6 linked regions of the Homo sapiens genome follow. The protein of the gene in region 3 purifies or fractionates together with the protein of the main gene of each other region. This does not show direct contact. Each region holds a gene or a part of one and is shown on either strand. Other genes may lie near its edges. The genes, in order: RBM6, TCTN3, TENT4B, RABL6, ZSCAN25 and RSBN1L.

Region 1 (4,905 bases), on a different chromosome or scaffold from region 3:
TGCAGTGGCACCATCTTGGCTCACTGCAACCTCCAGCTCCCAGGTTCAAGCGATTCCCCTGCCCTAGCCTCCTGATTAGCTGGGATTCCAGGCATGTGCCACCACGCCCTGTAGCCCGGCTAATTTTTTTGTATTTTTAGTAGAGACGGGGTTTCACCATGTTGGTCAGGCTGGCCTTGAACTCCTGACCTTGTGACCCGACCCACCTTGGCCTCCCATAGTGCTGGGATTACAGGTGTGAATCACTGCACAAGGCCTGCAAACCTTTATTTATTTATTTATTTTTGAGACAGAGTCTCGTACTCACCCAGGCTGGAGTGCAGTGGCGCAATCTCGGATCACTGCAAGCTCCGCCTCCCAGGTTCACGCTGTTCTCCTGCCTCAGCCTCTCTAGTAGCTGGGACTATAGGCGCCCACCACCATGCCCAGCTAATTATTTGTATTTTAGTAGAGACGGAGTTTCACCGTGTTAGCCAGGATGGTCTCGATCTCCTGACCTCGTGATCTGTCTGCCTCAGCCTCCCAAAGTGCTGCGATTACAGGCGTGAACCACCACGACCGGCCCAAACCTTTCAAAAGTGCAATTTGAGCTAGGCATGGTGGCTAACGCTTGTAATCCCAGCACTTTGGGAGGCCAAGGCAGGTGGATCACCTGTGGTCAGGAGTTCAAGACCAGCCTGACCAACATGCCGAAACCCTGTCTCTACTAAAATTACAAAAATTAGCCACAGGTGTGGTGGCACATGCTTGGAATCCCAGCTCCTTGGGAGGCTGAGACACTAGAATCGCTTGAACCCAGGAGTCAGAGGTTGCAGTGAGCTGAGATCTCGCCACTGCACTCCAGCCTAGGCAACAGAGTGAGAAAAAAAAAATTGCAGTTTGGTGCCCAACTTAACGTAACCTGTTAGTAAATGATTTCAGATCTTATTTTCACCAGAGGAAAGAGATAGGGTTGTGGGCTCCTAGGCTAAAGTGGCTAAGTGGGCAGCTGAGCAGAGGTCAGTATATTGTTATTTGGAATACATTTAAGGATTAAGGATGTTAGGTTGAAAAAGAGTCTTTATGACATCAGTCTGTGTGGCAAACCTTTCTCCCACTCCTACTTCTTTGAAGTTATTGGGAATCATTTGCTCTATTGTTTTCTCTTTTACATTCTGTAAGCATTTCAGGATTTTCAAGAGAAAAACATTTGTTAAAATAACAGTAAAAACATAAATAGGAGAAAATAATCAGGATGTGGGGAACATTTTATTATTTTAGAGGAATAAAACTACCAGCTTCTCAAGCACTTATCTTTAATGTAAATTTCTTTAGAGAAATTTCAGGTAGGCAACTTCGAAGAGTCAGACACATGCATCCATAACAACAGTCCTGTAGTCATCCCTTAAGGAAAGCCACAGCATGACCATAAAATATAGTTCAGTGCAGGGATTCAGGTAGCCTTCTGTTTGTTGCAAGGTTAGAGTTTAATGTGCCTACAAGGAGTTTCTTAGGTGGGCTTTTGTCCTCTTGTGGAGATTTTACTCTGGTGAAGACTGAAAGGCAGGTGTTCTGAAAATCTTTAGGGGAAGGCTGTGTATGTTCTAGAAACCAAACCAAAATGTGGGAAGGAGGATGAACAACTGAGATTTTTGCTTGTTAGGTCACTTCAGGTTAGGCAAAGTTGTGTTTTTTTCCCCCCACAAGAAACACTTTTTTTCAAAGCTATTCCAGCAAATGAATAGATAGTTTTTTGTTTTTTTTCTTTTTTTTTTTGAGACGGAGTCTTGCTCTGTCACCCAGGCTGAAGTGCAGTGGCGCAATCTCGGCTCACTGCAAGCTCTGCCTCCCAGGTTCACGCCATTCTCCTGCCTCAGCCTCCCAAGTAGCTGGGATTACAGGCACCCGCCACCGTGCCCAGCTAATTTTTTGTATTTTCAGTAGAGACAGGGTTTCACTGTGTTAGCCAGGATGGTCTCGATCTCCTGACCTCGTGATCTGCCCGCCTCAGTCTCCCAATGTGCTGGGATTACAGGCGTGAGCCACCGCTCCCGGCCATGAATAGATAGTGTATGAAAACCACTGGGCACCATACCACTAAGATGAGACAGCTTTAATCTGGAAACCTGTCACTGCTATTATGTAATCTCTATATTGCTCTCATATAATACCTCTTTTTGAGCCACATGGATTCCAGTGAACCCTCCAAGAATGAATTAGTTACAAGAATGTGCCCCTAATTATAAAACAAACTATAAAGACAAATTATCCTGCTGTAGTAGGACATTTGAAATAAATCATTTATATTTTGAAGGACGTCTGCCCATTATGTTTATTTGCATATAAAGGAGCTACGTGCAGATAGGGTCTGTTCCTAGCTTCACTGGAGGAGGGCCTGTGGTCTTACAGGATATGAGTAGCTGTTTGAGCACTGTAACACTGGAAGAAGCAAGGCTTCTAGATGTGTGTTTGGGATATGTGTTTCTACTAAACCTTAAGTAAGGGCCATATCTTCGGTAATTTTGTCCCCAGATGTGTTGTTATCATTGATTATGATAGTCAGGTTCAAGGTGTCATGAAGGATTTGTTATATTTAAATGTTTAGTAGGTGATATAGAGATTTCATAAGATTACATTTTTTAAATGCTTGGATAGTTTCTTCTGTGAACTATTTCATGTCCTGTCTCAGCTTCACTTAAAATATTTTGTCAGGAACTGTCAGAGGACTTTTTATTAGATATTTCTGAGATAATATTAAAAGCATTCCAGGCCGGGCGTGTTTGCTCACACCTGTAATCCCAGCACTCTGGGAGGCCGAGGCAAGTGGATCACCTGAGGTCAGGAGTTCGAGACCAGCCTGGCCAACATGGTGAAACCTCGTTTCTACTAAAAATACAAAAAATTACCTGGGCGTGGTGGTGGGCACCTGTGATCCCAGCTACTCTGAAGGCTGAGGCAGGAGAATCGCTTGAACCCGGGAGGCAGAGGTTGCAGTGAGCCAAGATCATGCCATTGCACTTCAGCTGGGCAACAAGAGCAAAACTCCGTCTCAAAAAAAAAAAAAAAAAAAAAAGGCATTCCAGTATGAGTATTTGCTGGCAGGTAAGGAGAAATTACAGTAGCAGTGTTTTTTCTTTTTTTTTTTTTTTGATAAAGCTTTCTAGAGATTCTCTTTGTTTCTGTTCCACTAGTGACAGAGGCCAAGCAAGAATTAATAACCTACCCTCAGCCTCAGAAAACATCCATACCAGCACCATTGGAAAAACAGCCCAACCAGCCCCTAAGACCAGCTGATAAGGAACCTGAACCCAGGAAGAGGGAAGAAGGCCAAGAGTCACGCTTAGGACATCAAAAGAGAGAAGCAGAAAGGTATCTGCCTCCTTCTCGAAGGGAAGGGCCAACTTTCCGAAGAGACCGAGAGAGGGAGTCATGGTCTGGAGAGACACGCCAGGATGGAGAGAGCAAAAGTAAGTAGTTTGTCAGGGCACATACCAGACTGTGATCATCACAATGGAGCATAGATGGCCAATGTTATGTCCGGGAGCTATCTGCTTTCCAGTACCCTGAGAGATCTGTGCATGACCTGATGACAGAGGCCATTGCTGTCTGTGGACCTTCCTGTACTGCTTAAAGGAATCTATGCCCTTCAAATAGTAAATTGCTATATGAATGCAGTAAGGCATGATTTTAGATTTCTAAGTATTGGTGAAGAAAAGTATGCAGTATTTATTTGTTTAGCATTTTTTTACAGAACCAGCCTTGCTAGTAGCATCTATAGTAAAAAATGACAGTCAGATTCTTGGGACTTCAAAAATTTATCTTTCTCTCCCTTGTGTTGCCCTTCTCCCATTTATGGTTGATTCAGCTATCATGCTAAAGCGTATCTATCGTTCCACACCACCTGAGGTGATAGTGGAAGTGCTGGAGCCCTATGTCCGCCTTACTACTGCCAACGTCCGTATCATCAAGAACAGAACAGGCCCTATGGGGCATACCTATGGCTTTATTGACCTCGACTCCCATGCGGTGAGTTTCCTCCACCTTGGATTGGCCTAGAGACAGATGGCTAAAGAACCTTCAAGAAGGTTTGACTGGGGGCCGGGCCTGGTGGCTTACGCCTGTAATCCCAGCACTTTGGGAGGCCGAGGTGGGTGGATCACGAGGTCAGGAAATCAAGACCATCCTGGCTAACACGGTGAAACCCTGTCTCTACTAAAAAATACAGAAAAATTAGCTGGGCGTGGTGGCAGGCGCCTGTAGTCGCAGCTACTCGGGAGGCTGAGGCAGGAGAATGGCGTGAACTCCGGAGGCGGAGCTTGCAGTGAGCCGAGATCGCGCCACTGCACTTCAGCCTGGGTGACAGAGCGAGACTCTGTCTCAAAAAAAAAAAAAAAAAATTTGAGGGACTTCTTGATCATTTGAATTCTTGTGTGCTACCTGATATCATAATCCCTCTTGCTCTCTCCTTTGGGTTTATTGTTCATTCAGGTCAGGTGACAGCCCTCAAAAGTTAGGATCCCGTCTGGTTTTCTAGGTTCATTTTTTTCTTGTGTCATTTACTGTTTCCAACTTACTCGCTTGTGAAGAATCTGAGTACTGAATCCTTCATGATTTTAGTGAACTTTCTGATTTATTTTGTCCAGCCACAGATGGTTTTATATTTGATGATAAAACATTTCCTCTTTTTCCTCAAAGTATTTATAGATTCCTGTGGCTTAAATTTTTAGTTGCGGGGCCTTTTTCTATGGAAGTAAGGTGAAGATAATGAAAGTCATTGGTATTTCTTAGATTTTTCATGCTCAAAAGTCACAAGGGACTTTGTAAACTGAATCTGATTGATGATAATTGCAACCTAAAAGAAGAGGATTTGAATTTCTGAAGTTTATGCCAGAACTGACATCTATTCTGATTCCTGTTCCAATCAGT
Region 2 (4,905 bases), on a different chromosome or scaffold from region 3:
ATTGGAAATAATATAAAATAGACCAGAGGGTATAATCCTTAGTAGGTATTAACAATTGCCAGAAAACTCTTAGCAATATCAACACTATTTAGACTAAAAGACTATTCCTGACTAGCATTTTCCGAACTGTCATTAAAAATATAAAAGTTACCATATCAACATATTCCCTACATATTCCCGAAATTGCAGGAAATGATGCGGAAGCAAAGAACTACCTGAGCTTGCATCCAGATATTGCATTCACTCCAAACTGCACTTCATGTCTTTTAACAGAGCAACTTCCATTACCCTGGCTCTGTAAGAGGGTCATCCAAGGTGGAAAAGTGATGATCAAGGACATCATAACAGAAAAAAAAAGGAGGCAGCATTGCAAAATTTATGTTCTCATTCTCCTTTAATGCTATTTATTTTGTATTACTATCATAATGTTCGAGTCACAAATTTGTGATTTTTTTCCTCAGAAAACCACAGAGAGACAACTAGATTCCAAAAATGATTAACCATATATTAGTATATAAGTACCTCATTATAATGAACAAAAAATTCCTCACCTTTGGCTAGTCTAACATAAGTTTGAAAGCCTTTGCAGCTTTTCTCATTAGGCTGCAACAGGCCACCCAGCTCTAAAAAGGATACTGAGTAACTTATATCATCAGTCAGAGCCAAGAGTGGCTTCCCAACTATATAGCCAGGATTCCCACTTCTAGGACTGGTGAGAGAAGCAGCTGTGCTCTGTTGAAAAGCCTGCAGAAAGAGGGAAGAGAAGTCAATTATGGAGATAAGCATACTTTCCCACCTCCCACTGCTTGGCTTCACCGTACCCTTCCTTAAGGCAAGGAAATGCAATAAGTGAGCTACACTGAACAATCTGGCTTCTTTCCACAGTGTAGCATTTTGCTTCTTTCACTTTTTTAAATTTACTAAAATAAATCCTTCATGATCTGAATATTGAAATTCATAATACGCTACTTTTACCAAGGATTACAACCAAGAATCTACTAAGGATCCCTTAAAAATTACTAGCAATTTAGCAATAATAACACAGCCTGGTTAAAATCTGAAAAATTTAAATGTAATTAAAAAATATATATTTTAATTAACTACAGATGTTCCAGAGATGAGCTCTGAGAGACACAGCAGTTGGTTGATCACCTGAGGGTAGAGTTGAGAAAATCTATGCTGGGTTCAAAAAGAGGAAAGAAGTAGCAGAAAGCCAAATGGCAGTGATTAAGAGTGAACACTCAGATTAAGTGGGAAATGAGTAAAATGCTGACTGCCCAGAAATATGAGAACAGCTAGTTAAAGAATTTTTGTAGGTGTTGGCTGAATTTATGATTCAAAATGACTATAAAAAAAGTTTTGATTTTAGATTGAAGTCCTGCTTTGTTGGGGGCCAGACAGAGAATTGGAGAAAATTTTAATGAGTAAAGACTTGTAGAATAACCACAACTTGTAGTAAAATTATGGAATATTAAATGTTGAGGCCTCAATCGACAGACTGAACTAGGCCTTCATATTCTTATTCTATTTCACATGTATTACAGAAGCAAAGAAATTATTTCTAACCCAATATTTCTTCCCCTCTAAATCCCCTATAAGAGAAGGGCCCTAACCCTGAAGCGAAGGATGAAGTGTTGCTGTAAGGAAGCGCCTGGCTCAACAGTCAGGTTGGTTTGTCCCAAACTGACAGAAACTTTCTGGATTCCAAAAGTCCCATTGGTCTCTATCTCATAGGTGACCTGAAATGCAAAAAGAATCAATTAATAAAAAGTAGTTATTGGGCCGAATATGTTTAGGACAGAAGATTTTCTGTCTTCAAGGGTGTTATTATAACTAAATGAGGCAGACTGAAACAGTAATGTTAAAAATGCCAAACACAAATACTATGAAAGATAAAGATGATTTCATATTATATTTGTATATGAAAAAGAAACTGGATAGAGCTCTTTAAAAGGGTTCACGGGTAGGTGAGTTTTTGGTAGGAACTGAAAGGGAAGAAAAATAAGTTGATTACGGACAGAGGAGGGCAAGTAGAAACAGGCAGAGGTGAGCATGGAACAGAAATCTGGTTTACTTGGCTCTCACAATGTTTGAGAATTAATAAAGATCATTGCTGGGGATACAAGTTGCAGGCAATTGAAAGTAACCTTAAATTTCTGAGCATAGTCTTTAAGAAGATGCTTTAAGATAATTCTTACTTTTTAAGGTTAGATTGTTTAGAGAACAGAGGAATACAAGTTGATTAATCTACTTCAGAGTTTCAGATGATACTGTGTCAAGAGAATAAAATGTGGTCAGTCAGTAAGAATCAGTAACAGACTGCAAGTGGGCAACAGAAGAGGTGTCAGAAATAATTTTAATGTCCTGGACCTGAAATACTGGAGGATGGTGGTGATGGAAATAACTGAAACGTGGTAGGGAGGATAATGGGCTCAATTATTGACAAGTTTAATTTCAAACTTGTTGGGAATTGTTGAAATTCACAATATGCTACTTTTACCAAGGATTGCAACCAAGAATCTACCAATACAACAAGTTTGCATTCCCAACATTGTTAGAGAATGCAAACAAAATTCAGTTGGGTCAGTCTGATACTTAATGGAAGATGAGGCACCTCTGGCAGTGTTGATTAACACACATCAGTCCAGAATCTGAGGTCAGTATCCCTACCTGAGAAACTACATTCTGACAAGTGTTTCCAGCCAACAGAGGAGCATTAGCCTGTGAGGTAAGTATTACAGGAACCTGGAACTAGCAACGAAAAGAAGCAAATTAACTAAAACTGAAGGCGGTATTTTGTCTTGTATCTATTAATAGATATCATGCTAAGATGAGTATTTTTCCTTCCCCTTGACCACCCTCTCTCTCTCTTCTTCCAGTGCCAGCCAACAACTTAAATTCAAGTCTTTCTAAACGAGCACTTCTCAAAACTTATTTCTCAGAACACTAGTTCTATTAAATATAAAACAAGGGTTCCATAGTCAAATAATTGTTAGAAATACTATATTCAGTATTCCCCTTAGAGATTAATAAGGCCCTCTAGCAAATTAAAGACTCCAGGAGGGGTGAGATGGCTCACGCCTATAATCCCAATACTTTGGGAAGCCAAGTCAGGAGAATTGCTTGAGGTCAGGAGTTCAAGACCAGCCTGGACAACATAGCAAGATCCCCATCTCTACAAAATATTAAAAAATTAGCTGGGCATGGTGGCACACGTCTATAGTCCCAGCTACTTGGGAGGCTGAGGTAGAAGGATTAGTTGAGCCCAGGAGGTTTAGGCTGCAGTGAACTGTGACCGTGCCACTGCACTTCAGCCTGGGTGACAGAGCAAGACCCTGTCTCTCAAAAAAATTAAGAAGCCCACCCTAAATATAGTTTATTTAACCCAATGTTTACAAACTTATCTAACACCTTATGGATCCTGGTTTCATACGAGGCTATTAACTGTATAGGACGTACTTGCAAAGGCACCGTTTTAGATCCCTACTTAATTGTTTGCTACATCACGCTTACATTTATCTTTCAACAGTACAACTTAGACTAAAATTGCCTCAGATGCAGAGGAGCCAAATATTCTTTTTCTTTTTTCCTGGTACAACAGCATCATACCTCCATATTCTGTGGATCAGTCATGCTTCTTGGAACCTAGGAGAACAGCAGGGACATGAATGTGCATATACCTTACCAAAAATCACCAGGAGCTTGTGGTTTCATATTACTACCAATAGGCTTTGGTTTGGCGGGCAGGGGAGTCAATATATTAGAATGATTTACTTCCTCTATTCCACCTGACTCTTCTTTACACTAAAATGCCAGGAAGTGGAGCCAGGCAGGAGGGTGACAGACTGTGATGCCTATTTACTCTGACAGGGCTCTACTGAATAGCAAAAGCAAGAAGTTTGGTGAGATGGGTGTTTTCCCCCTTCCACCCTCGCAAGCCAATCCCATTAGTGAGAAGGGTGATGATCTCTTATCCTGCATATATATCCCCAATTATTTCATTTGTCTTCAGATGTGGTTTCCAGGCCCTCTGTCTTTTACGTGGCTCCTGGGGATTCTGACTTTTATTCAATGCTCTTTCCACAACCCACAACAGTGAGAAGCATGTTCACTTCAACTTCATAGTAGTGACAGTGTAGGGAGAGAAAGGACACCTACCTTTAAGACTGTGAAGTTATAGTAAGAGGCAGCATTGAGGGCTGAATCCAAGGTACAGCTACTAGCCAGGTTCTTGAAAAAACGAGTGCAAGTTGTACTTTTACTCTCTAGGAAACCTTAAACACAAATAATTAAGAGAGTGGTAAATGAGAAAGCCTGTTTTAAATTGAATGAAAAGGTTGGTACTTTTGCTCTGGATTCACCTGCAGGATTGCTTTCAGCACAGAGTCCCCCAGCTCCAACTCCTGCAGGTTGTCTCAGCAAGCTTATTACAGACCACTTGGGGAAGTAAGTAAGAATGGGGTCCCCAGCCTGAATAAAATATAAAAGAAACTTTGTTCACAGTGAGACTGGACTAAACTACAACAGAAAAGAAAGAGTAGAAACAAGGTTAACTCAAGGGCATGATTACGTGGACAGTACTGCCCTCCAAAGAGCTGACAATGGTTTAGCTAGCTGCAGGGTAGTGCTGCAAAGTTACCTTGTCAGCTGTCTGCTGTGAGAGTAAAAACTAAACCAAACAATCCCATCCCCTTCCCCAGGCTCACCCTGTAAAAAGATGGTGGTGATTGAGTTTGGAATGTTGAAGTGAATGATTCGCCTCCAAACTCTGCAGCCAGGGCCTGGAAGTTGGTTGCATTGACCTTTTGAAGCTTCTGGAAATAGTTTAAGTTTGCTAAAATGTTTTTTAAAAGAAAAAGCGTTTAGATAAAAGAAAAACATGCCAAGTAACTAATTTTAAAAAAT
Region 3 (4,905 bases):
GGGTTTAAGGTACAATTTCTTAAACTAGGATGGTGGGAATGGGGATGTGAAGGGAGAATGAATGTGAGAGGTATTACAGGGTAAGGATGGAGATGATTCAGATTCCTTAAGTGGATTTAATAATCACACTGTAGCTTTGAACTTGAGTGACTGGGGAAATATTTGTGGTGTTTTTGGAAATAAGGGCCAGAAGGACTATTGGTTTGGGTAAGAAGATAGTAGGGGGATGTATAGGTGGACCTGCTAGTGGGGAGCTGAGATTTGGAGGGCTGAGATGTAGTGCTCTTCACTGCCGTAGGGCAGTATCCTCTTGTATGTGCCATCCTCTAGTGCCCATTGTTCATCATGTCATAGTAAGCCCAAGATGTTCATGCCTTTTTTCAGCACTGCATTAGGGCTTATATCTGCTTCTCTTTCTCTCTCTCTCTCGCTCTCGCTCCCTCCCTCTCTCTCTCTTTCTGTTTTTTTTTTTTTTTTAGACGGAGTTTCACTTGTGTTGCCCAGGTTGGAGTGCAGTGGCGCGATCTTGGCTCATTGCAACCTCTGACTCCCGGGTTCAAGCAATTCTCCTGCCTCAGCCTCCCAAGTAGCTGGGATTACAGGCATGTGCCACCATGCCTAATTTTGTATCTTTAGTAGAGATGGGGTTTCTCCATGTTGGTCAGGCTGGTGTCAAACTCCCAACATCAGGTGATCTACCTGCCTCGGCCGCCCAAAGTGCTGGGATTACAGGCATGAGCCACCGCGCCCGGCCTCTCTCTGCTTATTTCTACACAGTGTTACCAATGAGATTGGTGTTACTGCTGGGCTCCAAAGCAATCAGACAGATTAAAGTAGATTGAATATGAAAGAATTTAGAGGCCTTTTTCCAAGTGATTTGTGCTCTATTTAATTTCTGTGCATTTGCAGATATAGCCCACAGTAATTCTTAGTGAACTAGAACCTTCAGGTTATTGAATTTTACTGATTTGGGTACTGACATGCGCTTTTAAGAAGACATTAGGTTTTCTATAGTGTAGATTGTACACTAACAATATAATTCATATTTAAGAATGTCTCAAAATTTAGTATACTGTGTTCAACTAACTTAACTTTCTTTGTTTTTTTTGTTTTGTTTTGTTTTTGTTTTTTGAGACGGAGTCTTGCTATGCCACCCAGGCTGGAGTGCAGTGGCGTGATCTTGGCTTACTGCAACTTCAACACTCCTGGGTTCAAGTGATTTTCCTGCCTCAGCCTCCTGAGTAGCTGGGATTACAGGCACCCGCCACCACACCGGCTAATTTTTGTATTTTTAGTAGAGACGGGGTTTCGCCGTGTTGGCCAGGCTGGTCTTGGACTCCTGACTCAAATGATCTGCCTGCCTTGGCCTCCCACAGTGCTAGGATTACAGACATGAGCCACTGCGCCCGGCCGCTAACTTAACTTTCATTCCACAACTTCCATCTTTTATCCAAAATCTGTGATCATTGAATACTGTCACCATTAATCATTGGCATTTCAGTGTTTGGACTTTTTTTTTCCCCCTTCGTCTTTGTGGACTCTTTTTTAACACTCATAAAGTTTTAACTATTGAAAAGCAAAGGAAACGGTGAGTGACTTTTTGGAGTCTGTCTACCCAGTGGTCACACAAAAGGCTTACTACATTACAGGAAAGATAGGATGGGAAAGGGATACTAGAAAATTCTAAGTCAGGAACGGGGGTGTGTATTAGAAAAATTCTGATCCTGGCATGCCAGATGGCCTTACATCTCAATTTCTTCCGTGAAATTCCTGCCAACAAATCATAGTGTTAGAAGTACAGAAGGGTCCATGGGAACAGAATTTAAGGGCTCCGTTGGTGATACGGAACTGATCAGATGGTTCTCACTTGTTCTCAGATAACCTGTATACTGAATATCACAGGAAGGGTATAGACGTCATGGCAGTGGTTAGATATTCTTGCACCTGCTGAAGCTGAGAAAATTAAAGTAATTTTTTTTCCTGTGGAAAGTAGAAAATCAAGCTTTTGTATGATTTCACACAGCTTTCTATTCTCTCTTTTGTTGACTCTGTTAAGAGTAACATTTAGTGGTGGAAACTATTTCAGGATCACACCCACAACACTAGAGACTGTATTAATCACTTACACACACATAGGTATAGAGTAATCTTGAAGGGGCTGTAGGCCAAAGATAATGCTTTTTTGAAGAATTAGAGACTAGTTACCAGCACCTGGTATTTGCTGTTTCCTACAGAGCTGACTGGACAGCCTAGAGTCTGCTGAGGAATTCAGAGGATGGCCAGTAGAATGTTCTTTCCACCCCAGAATATTTGGTAGGGACTCAGCTGCTGTGGAATGCCAAAAAGGCTTTGAGTTTGTTTCACTATTCTTAAGATTACACGTAATTGTTTTTTTGTAAGAGATTATATATATTCAAGTTGAGGATGGCTTTGAGTTAGACTTTCCTTAATTTGGAATCACACAGCAGATGATACATTTATTTCCATCTGATAAGTTACTTGATGATGTAAAAAGACATTTGAGTTAAAGATTTTTGGGAAAAAAGCTGAATGTTGAGCCATTTATGTTGTGTACTGGTTCCCTATTCACTTGGACAATTTTAAGTCTTAAAACAATCTTAACCATGTGCACAAGAGATTTCACATAGTATTTGGTAATTAAATTAAGGAATTCTAGCTCAAGTCATGCTTTTTGCTGAAATAGTTGTATATATTTAGTGCGGAAACCTGTGTTTTCAAATTAATGTAATAAAAGTTTCAATAAAATGGAAGCCTTTATTACCGTGTTTCAAATGCTATGCTAAACCTTTTCCATTTGTTATTATATTAACCTCCTCATACATAGCCCTACTAATTTTTTTACTTTCTATTTTGAAATAATTACAGATTTATAGGAAGTTGTGAAAAATAGTACAGAGCCCATGTTCCCTTCACCAAGTTTCACCTAATGGTAGTAGCTCACATAACGATAATTTAATGTCAAGAACCAGGAAATTGTCATCGTTGCAATCCATAAGCCTTTTTTAGATTTCACCAGTTTCACATGTATTTGTGTGTGTGTGTATATATATAATTGTATGCAATTTTATCATGTGTAGATCTGGATAGCCACTGTAACAGTCTATAGTTCTATATACAGAGCTACTCCATCACCTCAGGGCTCCCTATGCTACCACTTTATAGCCGCACGCACCCTTCCAGCAACCACTAATCTGTTTGCATCTCTGTAATTTTGCCATTTTGAGAATGTTATATAAATGGAATCATACAGAATGTAACTTTGGCTTTTTTTCTTTTACCATACTTCCTTTGAGAGCCATCCAAATTGCTGCATGTATCAGTAGTTCATTTCTTTTTACTATTGAGTAGTAGTCCATAGTATGGCTGAACCACACAATTTGTTTAACCATTTACTTATTGAAGGACATACCAGAAGGGTGGTTTCCAGTTTTTTGGCTATTGCAAATAAAGCTGCTATAAACATTCATGTATATAAATATTTTTATGTGAATATAAAGTTTTCATTTTGGGGGAATAAATGCCCAAATGTTTGGATTGTATGGTAAGTGCATGTTTGGTTTTTAGAGAAACTGCTGAACTATTTATTTTCTAGAATGACTATATCCTCTTATATTCCTATCAACAATATATGAGATATCCAGTTTCTCTGCATCCTTGCTAGCATTTAGTGTTACCACTTTTTTATTTGAGCGGTTCTAATATGTGTAGTGATAGCCTGTTTTGCCTTATATTAATCAATAAAAATAGCCTCATCTAATCTTAACTTTTTTTATTTTAAAACATCTTGGCAGTATTGAACTTTCTCAATGAAAAATCTCTAAAATTGTGACTTGAAAGGCTTTAATTTTCCAGTTTTTCTTTGGTTTTACTCTTAGCAGTAACATTTTAACTTTTTTTTGTCTTTGAAGTAATTTTCAGTGTTTCCTTTACATGTTGCTTTTTCTTAGAAACTAGTTACTAGCATGAAGTAGATCTTTAGCCTCGTTTTCTAAAAACATAAAAAAGTAAAACTGTGGGGTTTATTTCAAAATTGAGAGTCCTGTCTTTTCATATGAGGATATTTTATAGTCTGTTGGCTTGGCTATATTTTAGGGAGTAAACCTGTGGTTAGTGGTTTGTTGTTGGTGGTGGTAAAGTTTTCTTACAGTATTTTTATACCTGAATAATACCTTTAGACTCTATAGAATAGATACTTGATCTTCAAATCTATCCTAGAATAAATTGTTTTATCTAAACAGCTTTGTGACCTGAGAATTGGGACTTAGTCCCTTAGTTTTCCCTTACTGGCCCTTTGTAGTCACTGTTTTGATTTTGTGAAAGTAACTTAACTCTTAGCACTGTCAGGTATTGTACATTCCTGCCAAAGCAAGAATAAGAATACATAGGATTGTGTTTTAATTCTATAATTAGGTGACTTTTGGCTAATTTCCAGGAACTTGGACTTAATAAAGTACTAGTGATAAGTTTGGAAATTTTAGTGTCCTTGTTCTTTGAAGTTATTCACCCTTTACTTTCTTGTTTGTTTGGGGTGTTTATACTACTGTCCCTAAATATAGCTGAAATAAAGGAAGAAAAATAACCCCTGTAATATCACTACCAGGATATAATTTCTTTTTTTTTTTTTTTTTTGAGATGGAGTCTCGCTCTGTCGCCCACCATCTCGGCTCACTGCAAGCTCTGCCTCCTGGGTTCACGCCATTCTCCTGCCTCATCCTCCCGAGTAGCTGGGACTACAGGCGCCCGCCACCACACCCGGCTTATTTTTTGTATTTTTAGTAGAGACGGGGTTTCACTGTGTTAGCCAGGATGGTCTTGATCTCCTGATCTTGTGATCCACCTGCCTCGGCCTCCCAAAGTACTGGGATTACAGGCATGAGCCACCGC
Region 4 (4,905 bases), on a different chromosome or scaffold from region 3:
GCTGGAGTGCAGTGGCCGTGATCTCAGCTCACTGCAAGCTCCACCTCCCAAGTTTGCGCCATTTTCCTGCCTCAGCCTCCCGAGTAGCTGGGACTACAGGCACCCGTCACCACACCCAGCTAATTTTTTGTATTTTTAGTAGAGACAGGGTTTCACCGTGTTAGCCAGGATGGTCTTGATCTCCTGACCTCGTGATCTGCCTGCCTTGGCCTCCCAAAGTGCTGGGATTACAGGTGTGAGCCACTGCGCCACTGCGCCCAGCCAAAACACTTGTAATTCATCCTGAGTGACTTTGTAAGGGAGATTTGTAGCCAAAAGTATTCTCACATCTTGCTCTTTCTTACTGTCTTTTCCTTTTGGTTTCTCTAGTTTAATTTCATTGCCAAAGTCTTTCAAACCAGCGAGTTCCAAGGCTCTTTCCAGGTCTTCAGCAGCTTGAAAATCCACATAGTCAGATTTCCTTGTCATACCCATTCTGACATCCACAACAGCAAGATCATTTTTAGCAAAAATATCATGGATACTAGTTTTTGTTTTTCTTTCTTTTTCGAGACAGGGTCTTGCTCTGTTACCCAGGCTGGAGTGCAATGGTGCTCACTGCAGCTTCCACCTCCCGGGTTCAAGTGATTCTCCTGCCTCAGCCTCCCCAGTAGCTGGGACTACAGGCACGCACCACTACGCCCGGCTAATTTTTGTATTTTTAGTAGAGACAGGGTTTCATTATGTTGGCCAGGCTGGTCTCAAACTCCTGACCTTGTGATCTGTCCACCTCAGCCTCCCAAAGTGCTGGGATTACAGGCGTGAGCCACCAGGCCTGGCCCATGGATACTAGTTTTTAACTCAGGAGCAGACTTGTTAAAGTTCAGGTTTCCAACAAAGATTGAAAGACGTTCCAGCCTGGCCAACATGGTGAAACCCCGTCTCTACTAAAAATACAAAAATTAGCCGGGTGGTAGTGGTACACGCCTGTAATCCCAGCTACTCAGGAGGCTGAAGCAGGAGAATCACTTGAGCCTGGCAGGTGAAGGTTGCAGTGAGCCAAGATTGCGCCACTGCAGTCCAACCTGGGCGAGAGAGTGAGACCCTGTCTTAAAAAAAAAAAAAAGGCACAGTTGGTTCTGTGCTTCTCACTCTCCACTTTGTGTTTCTTGGCTTCAGAAGCTGCTGTTTGGTCATTTCCTTCATTTTCCAGGTGCTTCTTTGACAGACCCTTCCTCCTCTTTGTCGTCTTCATCACTTCATCCTCTTCATCATCGTCACCCTCGTCCTTGTCCTCATCATCCTCTTCATCTTCATTCCCAGCCATCCTCTTGGCTTTCCCAGGAACAGCATTTGTAGAAGCTTTCTTTCCTTTGGCTGGTGTTGTTTCCATAGGTGCTGCTTCAGAGCCATCTTCCTCAGCATCGTCCTCATCGTCCTCGTCCTCATCCCCTGAGGCAGGGGCACCCGCTGCTGCCTTCATCACTGCTGGTTCAGAGTCATCCTCCTCCTCATCGCTGTCTTCCTTCTTGGCGTTCTTGCCGTTCTTTGCCCCCTTGGCTGGGGTGTCCCTTCTTGCCAGGAGCTGCTGCCAGTGCTTTGCCTGCTATGGCTCCCTTCTTGGCAGGTGTGGCGACTGCTTTGCCTGGAGTGACAGTTGCTTTCTTGGTGGGTGTGGCACCTGCAGCCTTTTTTGTTCGGGAAACTGTCACCTTCTTGGCTGGGGTTGCAGCAGCCTTCTTGCCTTTCTCCTGAGGTGTGACAGTCTCTTCTCCACAGCTGTCATCTTCTTCATCTTCTGACATTTCCTCATCTTCACTTCCTCCTTCTGCCTCCTTTGGGGGAGCAGCCATTTTCTTGGGGTCACCTTGGTTTTTACCTGCCTCGACACCAAGTAGTCTGAAGCTGCTGAGGATGGGAAATCTTTGCAGGGTGCAGAGTGGGAGAGGAGCAAGGTGTGGCTGACACCAGCTGCAGCACAGGCTGTCAGGGTGGGGAGGTGGCTGGGCCCTTGTAATGGGCCCAGGAGATGCTGCTGGCACTGTGAGAGGGCCTGGTTAGGAGTTAAACCTTCATGCATCTGAGATAAATCATAAGCTCTTCTTGGTATGAAAATGTAAGAAAATTATTCCATATTTTGCAGGAAAGCTGCAGGAATGTGAAGGAGTTAAATTGAATCAGGGTAAGAAAGGCTCAGGGCCTCAAATAGAGCTCTGTGTTTTCTGCATTGTATCTTCTAAAACAAGCTTAGAACAGAGGTCGTGTTCACATCCCGTTTAGTAAAAGAGCAGGTTTACCATGAGGTTAAGTACAGGTAAGTACAGGGCTTCTTAGCGTTTCTTGGATGAATCCTAAAGGTTTTCCAGGAGAATCACTTAGCTTATTGCAGCCAACATTTAAGATTCTGAAGTTAAGCAGAAAAAAAGAAAACCCAAGATCAAGGGACCAGCAGGAGAAAAAAAAGATTCTGAAATTGATTTTATTTATTTAGGGTCTTGCTCTTTCGCCTGAACTGGAGTGCAGTGGCGCAATCTTGACTCACTGCAGCCTTCACCTCCCTGGCTCAAGCAATCTTCCCACCTCAGCCTCCTGAGTAGCTGGGACTACAGGTGCACGCCACCATGCCTGGCTGAGTTTTGTAATTTTTGTAGAGACAGTGTTTCACCATGTTGCCCAGGCTGGTCTCAAACTCCTGGGCCCAAGCGATCCATCTGCCTTGGCCTCCCAAAGTGCTGGCATTACAGGAGAGAGCCACTGCGACCAGCCTAACTTTTTAACTTAAAAGTAGAGGTTAAGTTGGGCATGGTGCCTCACTCCTGTAATCCCAGCACTTTGGGAGGCCGAGGTTGGTGGATCACTTGAGGTCAGGAGTTTGAGACCAGCCTGGCCAACATGGCAAAACCCTGTCTCTACTAAAAATAACAAAAATTAGCTGGGTGTGATGGGCACATGCCTGTAATCCCAGCTACTCAGGAGGCGGAGGCAGGAGAATTGCTTGAGCCTGGGAGGTGGAGGTTGCAGTGGGTCGAGATCGCGCCACTGCACTCCAGCCTGGGTGACAGAGTGAGACTCTGTCTCAAAAAAAAGGGGGGGGGGGTAATTTTTTAAAATAATTAAATCAGATTATTTTACTTGCCTTATTTCTGATGTTACAGGATTTCTTGTAATTAGCTTTTTTAAAAAAGAGTTTGTGGCCATATAGTAGGTGTGTATATGGGTAATTAGCTTTTAAAAGGAGTAAATTTCATTTCAAGGGAGAGAAAATAAGACTCTTCATTCTCAAAATGTGAAGATAATAGAAAACAAATGTATGTTAAAATTGATAAAGATGTAAAAGGAAGCAATCTTAAGACTAGTCAAGACTGTATGCCCATGATATGTGCAATTATTATGTCAATTATAAATACAAAAAACCATGAGCAGACAGTTTATGTTTGAAAAAGAAACAGAATGAAAACCTCTAGAAATGAAAAACATAGTCATTAACGTTAAATCAGTCAGCAGCAGGAGAAGCAGCACGAGAAGCAGCACTAACTCAGCTGAAGAGAGGAGCAGTGTTGGGAAGAGATGTGCGGCCCAGGGAGGAGGCGATGCCAGCCCATGTCCAGTACAAGTTCCAGAAGGAGAAGAGAGCAAGAAAGGAGAAAGGGAAGACTGAGGACTTTCCAGAGTTCATGAAATACAGGAAACTCCAAGAAGTCCAGAGTTTAAAAACATCCACAGCTAGATACATCATTGGAAATTTTCAAAACATTAAAAAGTAAACATCTTAGATGCAACCAGAACAAAAAGACTTCCCTGAGAGGAGCATGCAGTGGACTGGTGACCAGCTCGCAGCAAACCTGTGGCTGAGGGGAGGCCGACGTGGGCTGAGGGGAGGCCGACGTGGGCTGTGGGGAGGCCGACGTGGGCTGAGGGGAGGCCGACGTGGGCTGTGGGGAGGCCGACGTGGGCTGAGGGGAGGCCGACGTGGGCTGAGGTCTCTGTCTGATGAGCACTTGAGAGCCGTGTGACTGGCTCCACTTCTGCCGAAGCTTGAGGCTCACTGTGCAAAGGCTCTTTTAGAAATAAATACTGAAGGTTATTCTTCAGAGAGGTGGAGTTGAGCTCGAAACACAGGAGTGGATTTCAAAAAGCAAAGGGGGCCGGGTGCTGGCTCACACTTCTAATTCCAGCACTTTGCGAGGCTGAGGCAGGTGGATCACTTGAGGTCAGGAGTTTGAGTCCAGCCTGGCCAACATGGTGAAACGCTGTCTCTACTGAAAACACAAAAATTAGCCGGGCATGAGGGCAGGCGCCTGTAATCCCAGCTACTCAGGAGGCCGAGGCACAAGAATCGTGTGAACCCGGGAGGCACAAGTTGGAATGAGCTGAGATCGCGCCGCTGCACTCCAGCCTGGGCAACAGAACAAGACTCCATCTCAAAAAAAAAAAAAAAAAAAATGACGGGCACAGTGGCTCACGCCTGTAATCCCAGCACTTTGGGAGGCCGAGGCGGGCAGATCACGAGGTCAGGAGATCAAGACCATCCTGGCTAACACAGTGAAACCTCGTCTCTACTAAAAATACAAAAAATTAGACGGGCGTGGTGGCGGGCGCCTGTAGTCCCAGCTACTTAGGAGGCTGAGGCAGGAGAATGGCGTGAACCCAGGAGACGGAGCTTGCAGTGAGCCGAGATCCCACCACTGCACTCCAGCCTGGGCAACAAAACCAGACTCTGTCTCAAAAAAAAAAAAAAAAAAAAAAAAAAAAAAAAAAAAAAAAAACCAAAGGTAAGCAAAGAAACTGGTAAATATGTGGTGAAAATGAAATAAGTGTTGGTGGGTCAGGTGCGGTGGCTCACACCTGTAATCCCAACACTTTGGGAGGCCAAGGTGGGTGGATCACGAGGTCAGGAGTTCACGACCAGCCTGGCCAACATAGTGA
Region 5 (4,386 bases), on a different chromosome or scaffold from region 3:
TGTCTGGGTTGTAATTGCAGTAATGTCCACAAGGACTGGAGCAAGAACTCACAACAGGATTTGGAATCACAGAGGCAAAAAGTAGCAGGTGCAGAAACCTGAATGCAGGACTCTGCAGGCTGGTTCCCAGGATGGTGAGGGTCCTGGAGTGAAAGATGAGTGCTCAGAGGAGTAAGGAGGAGGCAGGAGTGAGTAGAGTGAGGCCGCTGAGGAGTCCGTGAGGACTCTGGGTCCTTGTTTAAAAATTTTTTCTGCGCAGAGTAATGTGATGGAGGTTTTACTTGAGGAAAATTGGATTGACGGCAGGGTACGGCCAGTCTGGAGGGTTGAAATAGTGTAGGCACTGGGGTAAGAGCAGGAACCAGGCCAGTGGTCATGTAGAAGGGGGTTTACTGAAATATGCTTCCAAGGATGGGCCACAGATTGGCCAGAGGGGAGGAAAGAGAAGAGTCAGAGAGGAGTCTACGTCTTAGGATCCTGGCTAAGGGCCTGGAAAAATTATGTTACTACTGTCAGAAAGAGAGGGAAGCATTTTCCTAAGAGGGAGGAAGAATGGAAAGTTCCATTTGTTGACTTTGAGATCTAAGTGGATGGTCCCTGGAAGTAGCTGCAAGTCAGGTACATGGTCTGGGAGTTAAAATAATATCATGAACCATTGCATTCCTGCTCCATGTGTGCAGTAAACTTCATGAGTGTACAATCCATTTTGAAGGTGGTGAATGTAAGGCTCAGAGAGGTTAATTGATTTTCCCATGATCACACAGCAATTGAGCAGCCAGTGCAGCACTCAAAACGGGTTTCTCACTGCTAGGTCCCTTCTCTTCCACTACTGTGTCTTTCTCCCAGTGTCTCTGTTTATACTTAGGTATCATTGTATTTATTTTTCCCCCAGCTTTATATTTTGAACTCTTATTATACAAATTTTCAAACATACAGAAAAGCTAAGACTAGTACAGGGAACACACTTAGGTCTTTATCTACATTCACCAATTGTTAACATTTGCCATATTTAGCTGTATAATGTGTGTTTTGTTTTGGAATGATATGGAAGTTGGAGGCATCTCAATCTTTCATTTGTAAATACTTCAGCATTTGTCTAACAATGACATTCCCAACATAGCCCAGTAGCATAATTTCATCTAAGAAAATAAACATAAATTCGATATATGTAACATCTAGTGCATAGTCAGCTTTCCCCAAGATCTAGTTGTGGTTTGTGCATTGCATTTAGTTTTAATCTTACTATTCATAACACCTCAAAACTGAAAACTACCCAAATGAACAACAGTCAAATTAATAAGTAGGTTGCAGTCTATCTGTATCTGTATATCTATCTATATATACATACACACACACACATACATATACTCAGTGGAATACTGTATACCAATGAAAAAGAATAAACTACAGCTTCACACCATGATATAGGTGAACGTCACAAACATGATATTGAGTAGAAGAAGCCAGAAACAATGTGTGAGACAATTACCTGAAGTTCAAGAACAGGCAAAAAAGTCCAGACAATGTGTTCCCGTTGGTATAGTATATATGTATACTATATACGTATATCATGTATATGCTGTATACGTATATCTCGTATATGCTGTATACGTATATCTCGTATATGCTGTATACGTATATCGTATATGCTGTATACGTATATCTCGTATATGCTGTATATGTATATTGTATATACTGTATACATGTATATGCTGTATATGTATATACTGTATATGTATAGTATATATATGCAGGGTATAGTGATGGAGGAGATGTAAAAGGGGCTTCTAGGGACTGGTTATGTTCTGTTTGTTGAACTGAATGCTGTTTACGTGGTTGGGTTCGTTAAGAAAATTCTTTGCATAGTGTGTGGTGACGCACACCTGTAATCCCAGCACTCAGTGAGGCAGAGGCAGGAGGGTCACTTGAGCCCAGGAATTCGAGACCAGCCTGGGCAACATAGTGAGGCCCCCATCTCCACAAAAAGGAAAAAAAGGGTAACGTGACATTTTTTAGCCAGCGCTGGATCCAAAAAAATAAAAATAAAATCTTTGCGTGTACAAAACATAAATGGCTTGTACACTTTTATTTTCATGAAAAGTTTACAAAACAAAATCCAAGCTGATAAGTATGTATTTCATATTTTATCAAACCAGGAGGCATATACTGTCAGGTTTTTTTTGTCTTCTAGTCATCTTGCCTAAAAGGACTCTTCCGCTTTAAGCACCACTTATTTCTCCTTTTCTTTTTTTCTCTTTGCCTCTTTGTTCCCCAATACCTTTTCTTTTCTTTTTTTCTCCTCCCCTTTCTGTTACTCTTCCATAAACACCTGTTCCGTTAATTTAGAGAGAATATAAGAAGGATCAGAGTGAGGATGAAGGAAGGGTGAAGCTGAGCATTTCAGCAGCGTCATGGTCTCAGTCCTGATAAATATGCTACCTAGGGGCGTTCTCCTGCAGGAGCCTCAGTGAAGCCTGCTTCATTCATTCAGCCAGCAGTTAGCAAGCATCTTCCCTGAGTCAGTCCCCTGCCAGGCTCCTAGGAGACCCAGATGAATGAACCTGGTTAGGCAGAGGGAGCATGTGGGCAGGACAGGGGACTGAGCAGGCACCTGGAAGGTCTGGAGAGCTGTGTGCTGCCCTGTGCTACAGCAGGTGTAGAATCGTTTGGGGAAGGCGCAGGACATCTGGATGAATGGAAACAGCATTTCCAACAAAGTCACATGTAAATAGGTACAGAATAATAAAGTGCTAGTTAGGTGCACAGTGCTGAAGAGGCCCAGAGTAAGAGAATAATCGTGGTGAGTGTCTTAGAGGAAATTATTGAGCTACATTTTGTAAGAAGTAAAGGTCTAGATTAGCAGCAAGATAAGTGGGCGGGCACTGGAATTTGGCAGACTATTCTGTAAAAAGACATGGAGGTGGAAATAAGGAAAAAGAAGTAAGGAAAGCCTGAGTTGAGGTTGTTGGTCAAAGGAAAAAAGAGAAGGAACCATGAATGGGACCCCTGTGAAGCAGAGTTCTAACATGTAAATGTCCTGCGGCTACCACAGAATCAATCTTTATCTCCTCCTGTCCTGTAGGCGGTGGGAGCAAGGAAAAGGAGGCAAAACCCCCACAGGAAGACCTGAAAGGGGCGCTGGTGGCACTGACATCAGAGAGGTTTGGGGAAGCCTCTCTCCAGGGCCCTGGGCTCGGAAGGGTCTGTGAGCAGGAGCCTGGTGGCCCTGCAGGCAGTGCGCCTGGGCTTCCTCCTCCCCAGCACGGTGCCATCCCCCTGCCTGACGAAGTCAAAACCCACAGCTCCTTCTGGAAGCCTTTCCAGTGCCCTGAGTGTGGGAAAGGATTCAGTCGGAGCTCCAATCTCGTCAGGCACCAGCGAACCCACGAAGAGAAGTCTTATGGCTGTGTGGAGTGTGGGAAGGGCTTTACCCTGAGAGAATACCTGATGAAGCACCAGAGAACCCACCTGGGAAAGAGGCCCTACGTGTGCAGCGAGTGCTGGAAAACCTTCAGCCAGAGACACCACCTGGAGGTGCACCAGCGCAGCCACACTGGGGAGAAGCCCTACAAGTGCGGGGACTGCTGGAAGAGCTTCAGCCGCAGGCAGCACCTGCAGGTGCACCGGAGGACGCACACCGGGGAGAAGCCCTACACCTGCGAGTGTGGCAAGAGCTTCAGCAGGAATGCCAATCTGGCGGTGCACCGGCGTGCCCACACTGGCGAGAAGCCATATGGGTGCCAGGTGTGCGGGAAGCGGTTCAGCAAAGGGGAGCGGCTGGTCCGACACCAGAGAATCCATACAGGGGAGAAGCCCTACCACTGTCCTGCCTGCGGGCGAAGCTTCAACCAGAGGTCCATCCTCAACCGGCACCAGAAGACCCAGCACCGCCAGGAGCCGCTGGTGCAGTGAGCATAGCAGGTGGCAGGCAGCACCATCATTCATCTTTCTCACTGCAGGGCCTTGCGGGGTGCAAGGTGATGGCTGCAGGAAAGCACTGGTCCCATCGCCTTCCCACCCATTCGCCAACGCGGGAAAGGCAAGGCCTGGCTTACTTAGAGCTTCCAGAGAGCATAGCTGCTTCCATCTCTTACCCAAGTGGTGCTAAACAATTTTTCTTCCAATGTTTGAGGGAAGCAGTCTCCTGCGGTTCAGTTCAGGCTGAGATTTTCTCCTTCAGTGGACTGTCTGTGTCCCCCTGCCGAACAAAGCTGGGAGTAAAGGCAAAACCTTGACACGTGTTGGTAGCTGGGACCTCATCTTCCTGAGGGCTCTGTCTTGCCTGCAGGGTCATAGCTCAGACTCTTCCCCCACCCCCTCTCTTTTCCATTGAACAAACATTTATTGAACATCCTCTGAGCACCTGGCCGTGGGAATGCCGTGGTG
Region 6 (4,905 bases), on a different chromosome or scaffold from region 3:
GAAGTGTATTTTAAGGAGAGGAAATACCTTTGCCAGTAGAGTTATGTTTTATAAGAAATTGTAAATAAATAGTTCAGTTTGACCAGAGTATGAGGTACTTGAGGGCACTGTCTTTGGATTCCAGACTGAAGAGATTATAGGTAGACATTGAGAGCTCTTGAAAGCAGTTTAGCTAAGGAATGAATATGATCAAAAGAATACATAAAAATTATAGAAAGGTTAATATGGCTGTAGCATTCAGGATGAGAGACAGTTATGCAGCTGTTAGACCAAAAATTAAGACAGTGGCATCAAGGAATTCAGAAGTAATCAAGGATGAGCTGGATAATTCTGTCAAATCACGGAGACACCAGAAAAAATGACTTGAGTAAATATGACTGGATTTGATATTTCAACATTCTGGGAAAGCAAATTTAAACAGATTGAAAACAGAACCAGAATTTAAGCAGTAAGAATGATAAGGTGGTAAAGGAAAGACACTAGGCATAGATGATTCTTTTTTTCTTTATTTTTTTCTTTTTGGGATAGGGTTTCGCTGTGTCACCCAGGCTGGAGTGCAGTGGCACGATCTTGGCTCACTGCAATCTGCCTCTCAGTTCAAGCAATTCTCCTGCCTCAGCCTCCCGGGTAGCTGGGATTACAGGTGCTCACCACCATGCCCAGCTAATTTTTGTGTTTTTAGTAGAGATGGGGTTTTGCTCTCTTGGGCGGGGTGGTCTCGAACTCCTGACCTCAAGCAATCCACTCACCTCGGCCTCCCAAAGTGCTGGGATTACAGGCATGAGCCACTGCGCCTGGCCTGAAGATTGTTTTCTAAAATATTCATTCATCTCCTTATTTCTGTAAACTGTGAGCATTTGCTATATGTCAGAATGGTAGCACACACTGTAGATGTAACTTTGCTCTATGCCCGTCTGTCTGTCTGTCTGTCTCTCTCTTTCTCTCTCTCTCTCTGTCTCTCTCTCGCTGTGTACATGAAGAGACTGGCTGGCTGGGTGTGGTGGCTCACGCCTGTAATCCCAGCACTTCGGGAGGCCGAAGCGGGCAGATCACGAGGTCAGGAGTTTGAGACCAGCCTGGCCAACATGGTGAAACCTTGTCTCTTCTAAAAACACAAGAATTAGCTGGGCATGGTGACGCGCTCCTGTAATCCCAGCTACTTGGGAGACTGAGGCAGGAGAATTGCTTGAACCCAGGAGGTGGAGTTTGCAGTGAGACAGGATTGTGGCACTGGATTCCAGCCTGGGCGACAGAGCAAGACTCTGTCTCAAAAAAGGCTGACTAAATATTGATTATCAATTCTGTAAAAAATGAGTCCTAAATATATAATTCTGAGTAAATTTTCAGAAGTAAACTTCTTACTTAGACAAAACTGTTCCTAAAGCATGGTTTTTAAAGTAATTAAAATATGGAGTTTCAAAAAACATTTTTTCCAACAGGTGGGAAGGAGAAACCAAAAACAAATATAGAAGACTTACAAATTAAAAAGGTAAAGAAGAAAAAGAAAAAGAAACACAAAGAGAATGAAAAACGGAAGCGTCCGAAAATGTATAGCAAATCTATTCAGACCATCTGCTCAGGATTGCTAACTGATGTTGAAGATCAAGCAGCCAAAGGCATCCTAAATGATAACATAAAAGATTACGTTGGGAAGAATTTGGATACCAAGAACTATGATTCCAAAATTCCAGAGAACAGTGAGTTTCCATTTGTCTCATTAAAGGAGCCACGAGTTCAGAATAACCTCAAAAGGTTGGACACTTTGGAATTTAAACAACTCATTCATATAGAGCACCAGCCTAATGGAGGTGCATCGGTTATCCATGCCTACAGTAACGAACTCTCCCACCTGTCTCCTATGGAGATGGAGAGGTTTGCAGAAGAGTTTGTGGGTCTAGTGTTCAGTGAAAATGAAAACTCTGCAGCTTTCTACGTGATGGGTATTGTTCATGGGGCAGCTACTTATTTACCTGACTTTTTAGACTATTTTTCATTTAATTTTCCCAATTCACCAGTGAAAATGGAGATATTGGGAAAGAAAGATATAGAGACAACGACTATGTCCAATTTTCATGCTCAGGTAAGAGGTTTTTAGTTTTATAAAATAACTTTTAATTATATATTTTTAGATGAGTTTCTGTTTTTTGTTCCTAATTATAGGGCTGAAATAAAAAGGTAAGAATATAATGAAACCATTTGGGAGTATTAAGAGTAAATTACTTTCTTGATGTGAGCATCAGAATTTAAAATTCAATTTTCACTTATGTATGTTTTTTTTTAAAGACAATTAATGAAATAATTAAGATTCTGTGTTTTTTTTTTTTTTTTTTTTTTTTTGCAAGGAGTGGTCTTGAACCTAAGGAAATGAATTTAGCCATGTATTTTCCAGTCCTTAAATAGTTTTCTTACCTGGAAATCACCTAAAATTGTCTTCTAGCTTTAGGATGCTTTAAGGTACTTAGCACCAGGCCCATCACATGGTAGGTACTGAAGAAATGTTGGCCATTAAAAATATTGTGGTATGAAGGAATCATCAGTTACTGTGTAATGATGTGTTAAAAGTAGCAATCAGTATATTGAGCTAATTTTCATTTCCTACCCTTCTCTATGGTGGAGAATATATATTATTCTGGAAAGCAGACAGAATAGAGTCTGCTGGGTCTTGAACATCAGTGTGGGCCCATCTGAAAGGCTGGTGCCATTATCACCCATCCTCAGATTGGGACTGTTTAGTCTGGAGATTGGCCAGTTCTCACATTTATTGATGCTGTAGTTTTTGGTTTTCTAGGAACGGTTTTTGGTTTCTAGGACAACATTCTAGTTTGGAAGGAGGGAAAAAGTAAAGGAAGTCTCAAATGGATCTTAGTGATTATTTATCCCAACACCTCTCAATTTACAAATAAGTAAACAGACGTAGAGAGAGAGGAGTAAGGTATTGTTTAACATTGTCAGCAGTGTCAGGATTAGAACAAAATCTTAATCTTCATCCAGGGCTCCTTTCCTTATTCTGAATATGTTCCTTTTTGGATGGGTGCTCAAGTTATAGTTTCCACTTTAAATGGTAGTCTGGATGTTCAGTCACATCCACATGTACCCCGCCCCCAATAGTATGAGTATGTTTGGTGTATATTCTGTAGTAGATTGTAGTCTGGAAAATAATGTGGTGTTTTTTTGTTTTTTGTTTTTTGAGATGGAGTCAGACTGGAGTGCAGTGGTGCGACCTTGGCTCACTGCAACCTCTGCCTTCCGGGTTCAAGCGATTCTCCTGATTCAGCCTCCCAAGTAGCTGGAATTACAGACATGCACCACCATGCCTGGCTAATTTTTGTATTTTTGGTAGAGACAGGGTTTCGCTATGTTGGCCAGGGTGGTCTCGAACTCCTGACCTCAAGTGACCTGCCTGCCTTGGCCTCCCAAAGTGTGGGGATTACAGGCGTGAGCCACCTCGCCCGGCCTGGAAAATAATTTTTAATGTGCGTATGTGGGAATTATTCTCTAACATGTTTGAGAATTGAAAATTAAATATTTTCTAAACTAGATAGGGAGCTATAGAGCATCCATTACTAGCCCTGTCATTTTATAGAAACCCAAAATGGTGAGTTACTTGTCTGAGGTTACACCTGAATATAATGGCAGAATCAGGACTGGCATCTAATAATAGTGTTTACTATTTATTGAGTACTGACTGTGCCAAGGACTAGTTGTTCTGAGTATTTTATATGTAGTAACTCATTTAATCCTCATTATAATCTTACTTTAGCAGTGAAGAAACAGATCCAGTGAGAGAAGAGATAACATGTTCAAAGTGCCTTATCACCTTATCATTCATTTGTCGTTTATTGCATGTCTCCTAAATGTCCGGTTTTCTATTGGGCCTCTTGGCTCCCATTCCCGGTTATTTCCACAATACCACAAACTTTCTTGCTTTGATACTATGCAAGTTTGCTTCAGTAACCTTTTAAATGTGACAGTACATTGATGTGCATCACATTACATGCTTTTCAGATGGTTTTTCAAATAAGTTTAGGAATTATTTTATACTAAATGATAAAAATTTTCATCTAAACTATCTAATATGTACACCATGAAAACTGCTTTTGTTACTAAATAAAATGAGATGCTGGACTTGTTAATCATGGCAGTGTGTGCCTGGGATGTGGATCTCAAGTCCTTGATGAGCCACCTCCTCTGGTTGTCACCATGTCTTCGGGCTTCTTGGGTAATATATATTGCAAAGAGGAAACTCCAGGCAGATGGATCCTGTTTTTTACCAGTTGTGGTTCTGGCCCCATATCTGTGTGATCTGCTACCCTGGTGACCTAAGCATGTCAGCTGCAGGGACTACTTTTGCTTCTTTAGCTTTAGACTTAAAGGCAGGAAAGTACATGTGCAAGGCCCGTATTCCTTTTATCACAAGATTCTTCAGATCTTATTCCTGTGAGTGGGGAAGTTGTTGTGTGCAGATTGGGGAGGTAGCCTTTGATTTGTCCTTAGGCACTGGCTTTATGAAACTGAATGGGATCCAGAAGAGAGAGCAGTAGGAGAAAAATGAGCATGCTTCTTCTTGCACAGTTCTATTTCTCATCCCTGGAGTCCTCCCAGTTAAAGCTCTCTCAGCCTACATTGAAGTGTCCCTCCAGGAGTTGATTTTATTTAGTAAACTTTTTATTGAAGTGTAATGTATGACATAGTATACATATTATAAATGTATAACTTGATGAATCTTCACAGGGAACACACCCATGATTTTAAAAAGCCAAATATTGTTAATAGCCAGAAACCATCCCCGAACCCTTCTTTATCAGTACTGTGCCAACCCCCCAGTCCCACCACATGAACAAATACCCAGGTGATCACTGTCCTGACTTTGAACATCACTGATATATTTTGCTTCTTTTTGAACTT

What was found.
Region 1: the proteins of TENT4B (region 3) and RBM6 purify together in Homo sapiens (affinity purification with mass spectrometry, with the first as the bait; one large-scale study listed by BioGRID). This does not show direct contact.
Region 2: the proteins of TENT4B (region 3) and TCTN3 purify together in Homo sapiens (affinity purification with mass spectrometry, with the first as the bait; one large-scale study listed by BioGRID). This does not show direct contact.
Region 4: the proteins of TENT4B (region 3) and RABL6 purify together in Homo sapiens (affinity purification with mass spectrometry, with the first as the bait; one large-scale study listed by BioGRID). This does not show direct contact.
Region 5: the proteins of TENT4B (region 3) and ZSCAN25 purify together in Homo sapiens (affinity purification with mass spectrometry, with the first as the bait; one large-scale study listed by BioGRID). This does not show direct contact.
Region 6: the proteins of TENT4B (region 3) and RSBN1L purify together in Homo sapiens (affinity purification with mass spectrometry, with the first as the bait; one large-scale study listed by BioGRID). This does not show direct contact.

Annotation. Positions count from the first base shown.
Region 1 is NC_000003.12:50,054,558-50,059,462, forward strand, and holds part of RBM6 (RNA-binding protein 6), read left to right. Parts: intron 1-3,170; coding exon 3,171-3,446; intron 3,447-3,844; coding exon 3,845-4,005; intron 4,006-4,905. UniProt on the Homo sapiens protein: Specifically binds poly(G) RNA homopolymers in vitro.
Region 2 is NC_000010.11:95,682,886-95,687,790, forward strand, and holds part of TCTN3 (tectonic-3 isoform a precursor), read right to left. Parts: intron 4,835-4,905; coding exon 4,707-4,834; intron 4,471-4,706; coding exon 4,362-4,470; intron 4,275-4,361; coding exon 4,159-4,274; intron 3,646-4,158; coding exon 3,610-3,645; intron 2,752-3,609; coding exon 2,671-2,751; intron 1,740-2,670; coding exon 1,614-1,739; intron 745-1,613; coding exon 637-744; intron 311-636; coding exon 216-310; intron 1-215.
Region 3 is NC_000016.10:50,158,786-50,163,690, forward strand, and holds part of TENT4B (terminal nucleotidyltransferase 4B), read left to right. Parts: intron 1-4,905. UniProt on the Homo sapiens protein: Terminal nucleotidyltransferase that catalyzes preferentially the transfer of ATP and GTP on RNA 3' poly(A) tail creating a heterogeneous 3' poly(A) tail leading to mRNAs stabilization by protecting mRNAs from active deadenylation.
Region 4 is NC_000009.12:136,813,660-136,818,564, forward strand, and holds part of RABL6 (rab-like protein 6), read left to right. Parts: intron 1-274; exon of another isoform or gene 275-516; intron 517-823; exon of another isoform or gene 824-891; intron 892-1,110; exon of another isoform or gene 1,111-1,872; intron 1,873-4,905. UniProt on the Homo sapiens protein: May enhance cellular proliferation. May reduce growth inhibitory activity of CDKN2A.
Region 5 is NC_000007.14:99,626,109-99,630,494, forward strand, and holds part of ZSCAN25 (zinc finger and SCAN domain-containing protein 25), read left to right. Parts: intron 1-3,082; coding exon 3,083-3,912; 3' UTR 3,913-4,386. UniProt on the Homo sapiens protein: May be involved in transcriptional regulation.
Region 6 is NC_000007.14:77,747,985-77,752,889, forward strand, and holds part of RSBN1L (lysine-specific demethylase RSBN1L), read left to right. Parts: intron 1-1,439; coding exon 1,440-2,080; intron 2,081-4,905. UniProt on the Homo sapiens protein: Lysine-specific demethylase that specifically demethylates methylated lysine residues of proteins.